Regions from separate parts of the Homo sapiens genome. Here region 1 is linked to region 2. A link means that fine-mapping ties the variant in region 2 to the expression of a gene that starts in the linked region. Tissue or cell type: nucleus accumbens. Region 2 holds a variant in brackets; the other region holds the start of a gene. All regions are shown on one strand. Distances are between the middles of the regions.

Evidence for each region. PIP is the estimated chance that this variant, and not a neighbour inherited with it, causes the effect.
Region 1: it holds the start of ZNF117, and the variant in region 2 is fine-mapped to the expression of ZNF117 in nucleus accumbens (GTEx, PIP above 0.99). The same link has a PIP of 0.9 or more in ileum.

Annotation. Positions count from the first base shown.
Region 1 is chr7:64,989,706-64,992,390 of GRCh38, reverse strand. It overlaps ZNF117 (zinc finger protein 117), which reads left to right and starts at 1,355. Exons shown (of 4, transcript NM_015852.5): 1 at 1,355-2,444. All of the region lies in intron 1 of ERV3-1-ZNF117 (ERV3-1-ZNF117 readthrough), which reads left to right. ERV3-1 (endogenous retrovirus group 3 member 1, envelope) reads left to right here. Exons shown (of 2, transcript NM_001007253.4): 2 at 1-2,035. The coding sequence ends at 1,179.
Region 2 is chr7:65,213,790-65,216,474 of GRCh38, reverse strand. It overlaps the pseudogene INTS4P1. Among named protein-coding and RNA genes, the nearest start is that of SNORA15B-1, 140 kb to the right of the region's middle. The variant C/T (reference allele first, on the strand shown) is at 1,476.

The DNA of each region.
Region 1 (2,685 bases), 220 kb after region 2:
ACAACAGGTTTAAAAGCACCGCTAGGGGCACGAGTCAGCGGTGAAGAAATTGGCCCAGGAGCCTATGTCTATCTATATATCATAAAGAAAACTCGGACCCGCTCAACCCAACAGTTCCGAGTTTTTGAGTCATTCTATGAGCATGTTAACCAGAAATTGCCTGAGCCCCCTCCCTTGGCCAGTAATTTATTCGCCCAACTGGCTGAAAACATAGCCAGCAGCCTGCACGTTGCTTCATGTTATGTCTGTGGGGGAATGAACATGGGAGACCAATGGCCATGGGAAGCAAGGGAACTAATGCCCCAAGATAATTTCACACTAACCGCCTCTTCCCTCGAACCTGCACCATCAAGTCAGAGCATCTGGTTCTTAAAAACCTCCATTATTGGAAAATTCTGTATTGCTCGCTGGGGAAAGGCCTTTACAGACCCAGTAGGAGAGTTAACTTGCCTAGGACAACAATATTACAACGAGACACTAGGAAAGACTTTATGGAGGGGCAAAAGCAATAATTCTGAATCACCACACCCAAGCCCATTCTCTCGTTTCCCATCTTTAAACCATTCTTGGTACCAACTTGAAGCTCCAAATACCTGGCAGGCACCCTCTGGCCTCTACTGGATCTGTGGGCCACAAGCATATCGACAACTGCCAGCTAAATGGTCAGGGGCCTGTGTACTGGGGACAATTAGGCCGTCCTTCTTCCTAATGCCCCTAAAACAGGGAGAAGCCTTAGGATACCCCATCTATGATGAAACTAAAAGGAAAAGCAAAAGAGGCATAACTATAGGAGATTGGAAGGACAATGAATGGCCTCCTGAAAGAATAATTCAATATTATGGCCCAGCCACCTGGGCAGAAGATGGAATGTGGGGATACCGCACCCCAGTTTACATGCTTAACCGCATTATAAGATTGCAGGCAGTACTAGAAATCATTACCAATGAAACTGCAGGGGCCTTGAATCTGCTTGCCCAGCAAGCCACAAAAATGAGAAATGTCATTTATCAAAATAGACTGGCCTTAGACTACCTCCTAGCCCAGGAAGAGGGAGTATGCGGAAAGTTCAACCTTACTAACTGCTGCCTGGAACTTGATGACGAAGGAAAGGTCATCAAAGAAATAACTGCTAAAATCCAAAAGTTAGCTCACATCCCAGTTCAGACTTGGAAAGGATAGTCTCCAGATTCCCTTTTCAGAGGTTGGTTCTCATCCCTTGGAGGATTTAAAACCTTAGTACAAATAGTCCTAGCCATATTGGGAGTTTGCCTTATACTCCCTTGTCTCTTACCCCTCATTGTCAAAAATATCCAAACAGCCATAGAGGCTCTTGTGGACAGACGGACTACCACACGACTAATGGCCCTAACTAAGTATTAACCCCTGCCAAGAAAAGAGCTACTTCCTCTTGAAGTAAATGAAGATAGTGATGCTTTCTCTTAAACTTTACTTATAAAAAGCATCAAAGGGGGGAATGAAGCAGGAAATATAAAAGGAAAAACAAGTAAAGGGAAAACAAGTCCTTTCCTGACCAGTCTGACTCACTCCAAAGTCCTGCTGGAGCTATGATAATTATCTGCAAGGCCAGGCAGGGGCTCCGAAGGAGTGGGCTCCAGGAGCAGGGATGAGAAAAACAAGTTCTCCTTATCAGTTTCCCTGTTTGAAATTCTCTCCCCATAACATTATTCTTTGTTCTGCTCTCACAACTATTTTTGTAACTATTTCTGCAAGTCTGTAAAGATTTTGTAAGTTCTTGTTTTTCTTTCTGTAGCATGGCAAGGTCACAAGACATGTTTAAGTAAGGTAGGCTCATGTTGCAAATCCTGTTGTAAAACCTGTCACGGTATGATTAACTGCCTTTGTTCTGCTTCTGTAAGACTGCTTTCTCACCTCGCAGGTTTTGCGCCAAAAACCCGACTTGCCCCTGCCTGATGCATGTATAAAAGTCAAGCCCTGTCTTTGTTCAGGGCTCAGCCTTTGGATGTTAATCCGCTGGGCCAGTGGCCACCTAAATAAAACCTTCCTGTTGCACCCAGTGATCTCTCCGGCCTCCTGATTCCCACAACATATAAGCATTCCTTTTTCTCTGCAACCTAGCCCGCATCTGTCATTGACTTTTTAACAATAGGCATTCTGACTGGATGAGATGGTATCTCACTGTGGTTTTTCTCTGCATTTTTCTAATAATTAACAACGTGAATTTTGTTTTCATATGCTTGTCAGCCACATGTATGTCTTCTTTTGAAAAGTATCTGTTCATGTTTTTGCTTACTTTTTAATTAGGTTTTTGGTTTTCTTTTTGTTGTTGTTGTTGTTTTCTGAGATGGAGTCTTGCTGTGTCACCAGGATGGAGTGCAGTGGCATGATCTCGACTCACTGCAACCTCCACCTCCCAGGTTCAGATGATTCTTCTGCTTCAGTCTCCTGAGTAGCTGGGATCACAGGTGCGTGACACAAAACCCAGCTAATTTTTGTATTTTTATTAGAGATGGGGTTTCACCATGTTGGCCAGGATGGTCTGGATCTCTTGACCTCATGATCCATCTGCCTCAGCTTCCCAAAGTGCTGGGATTACAAGCATGAGCCACAGATCCTGGCTTATTCTTCTTCTTCTTTTTTTTTAAAATAAATTTGTTTAAGTTTCTTATGGATGCTAGATTTTAGACCTTTGTCAGAAGCATAGTT
Region 2 (2,685 bases):
TTTATTAGAGCCTGTGGAGAGATCATGAATGTATTCTCCAATATGTTCATTTTCAGGGGTTAAAAAAAAATCTCCCCAGTGTCACTTCTCCCAGGAACGTGTGTATGTGAATGGCTTAAAAACTGTTGCCCTTGACAAAGAAATGTACCAATCTCCAATGACAGAATATTTAATCGAGGAAAGTTCTCATTAACAGATGTTAATTAATCTCCTTAACAGATGTTAAGGAGAACTACAAACCACTGCTCAGTGAAATAAAAGAGAATACAAACAAATGGAACAACATTCCATGCTCATGGGTTGGAAGAATCAATATCGTGAAAATGGCCATACTGCCCAAAGTAATTTATAGATTCAATGCCATCCCCATCAAGCTACCAATGACTTTCTTCACAGAATTGGAAAAAACTACTTTAAAGTTCATATGGAACAAAAAAGAGCCCGCATCGCCAAGTCAATCCTAAGCCAAAAGAACAAAGCCAGAGGCATCATGCTACCTGACTTCAAACTATACTACAAGGCTACAATAACCAAAACAGCATGGTACTGGTACCAAAACAGAGATATAGATCAATGGAACAGAACAGAGTCCTCAGAAATAACACCACATATCTACAACCATCTGATCTTTGACAAACCTGACAAAAACAAGCAGTGGGGAAAGGATTCCCTATTTAATAAATGGTGCTGGGAAAACTGGCTAGTCATATGTAGAAAGCTGAAACTGGATCCCTTCCTTACGCCTTATACAAAAATTAATTCAAGATGGATTAAAGACTTACATGTTAGAACTAAAACCATAAAAACCCTAGAAGAAAACCTAGGCAATACCATTCAGGACATAGGCATGGGCAAGGACTTCATGTCTAAAACACCAAAAGCAATGGCAACAAAAGCCAAAATTGACAAACGGGATCTAATTAAACTAAAGAGCTTCTGCACAGCAAAAGAAACTACCATCAGACTGAACAGGCAACCTACAAAATGGGAGAAAATTTTCGCAACCTACTCACCTGACACAGGACAAATATCCAGAATCTACAATGAACTCAAATAAATTTACAAGAAAAAAACAAACAACCCCATCAAAAAGTGGGCGGAGGATATGAACAGACACTTCTCAAAAGAAGACATTTATGCAGCCAAAAAACACATGAAAAAATGCTCATCATCACTGGCCATCAGAGAAATGCAAATCAAAACCACAATGAGATACCATCTCACACCAGTTAGAATGGCGATCATTAAAAAGTCAGGAAACAACAGGTGCTGGAGAGGATGTGGAGAAATAGGAACACTTTTACACTGTTGTTGGGACTCTAAACTAGTTCAACCATTGTGGATGTCAGTGTGGCGATTCCTCAGGGATCTAGAACTAGAAATACCATTTGACCCAGCCATCCCATTACTGGGTATATACCCAAAGGACTATAAATCATGCTGCTATAAAGACACATGCACACGTATGTTTATTG[C/T]GGCACCATTCACAATAGCAAAGACTTGGGACCAACCCAAATGCCCAACAACGATAGACTGGATTAAGAAAATGTGGCACTTATACACCATGGAATACTATGCAGCCATAAAACATGATGAAACTGGAAACTATCATTCTCAGCAAACTATCACAAGGACAAAAAACCAAACACCGCATGTTCTCACTCATAGGTGGGAATTGAACAATGAGAACACATGGACACTGGAAGGGGAACATCACACCCCGGGGACTGTTGTGGGGTGGGGGGAGGGGGGAGGGATAGCATTTGGAGATATACCCAATGCTAAGTGACGAGTTAATGGGTGCAGCACACCAACATGGCACATGTATACATATGTAACAAACCTGCACATTGTACACATGTACCCTAAAACTTAAAGTATAATAATAATAAAATAAAATAAAATAAAATAAAATAAAATAAAATAAAATAAATAGTTAATGAATGGAGTTCTGCAGGCTTTGCTTTAAAGAACAGATCTACAGTATTTTAATGGGGAATGTAATCTCAGTGTCATCTCTGAGGCATGTTTACTGCTATATCTCTATCGAGCACCTGAAGTAGTGCCTGGAACAGAGGAATGACTCAGGGTGTGGTGACTGGACTGGATGGCACTTTCAAAGCACTGGACCTGTCCCACGATGGGGCAGTGAGTTTCCTGTCCCTCTACCTATAAGGTATCTAAAAGGTTTAGCCTTGCGTGTGGTAGATGTGCTTTGAAGGGGGTTTAGGAGACAGTCTAGGAGATGACCCTTAAGTAACCTGCCCACAATCTCCTTTACACTCAGGTGATCAGTGAAGTTTTTTTTCAGGGACAAGGTAAAACAGTAGTTCTGCTGGTATCACTGACTACGTATTAGAATCACCTATGAACTCTTAAACACTAGTGTCCATAGGCCCTATTCTCAGGATTTTGATTTAATTAATGTAGGCTGACACCTATTCATCTGTTCTTAATGCTTTCTGAGTAATCCTAAAGTGCAGTGAAGGTGGACAACCACTAATGTGGAAAAAAACAAAACAAAACAAAAACACTCCAATATGCAATACAACTTCACAGCTAGCTCAGAACTAGTTCTCTGCAGGTCTCATAATTTATAATAATTTCTGCTTGGAAGCCAGAAGGCCCAGTCCTTTATTGTCACCATAGCCGAAAAGCGTAATCTTCAAGGCCTGATTCATCCTT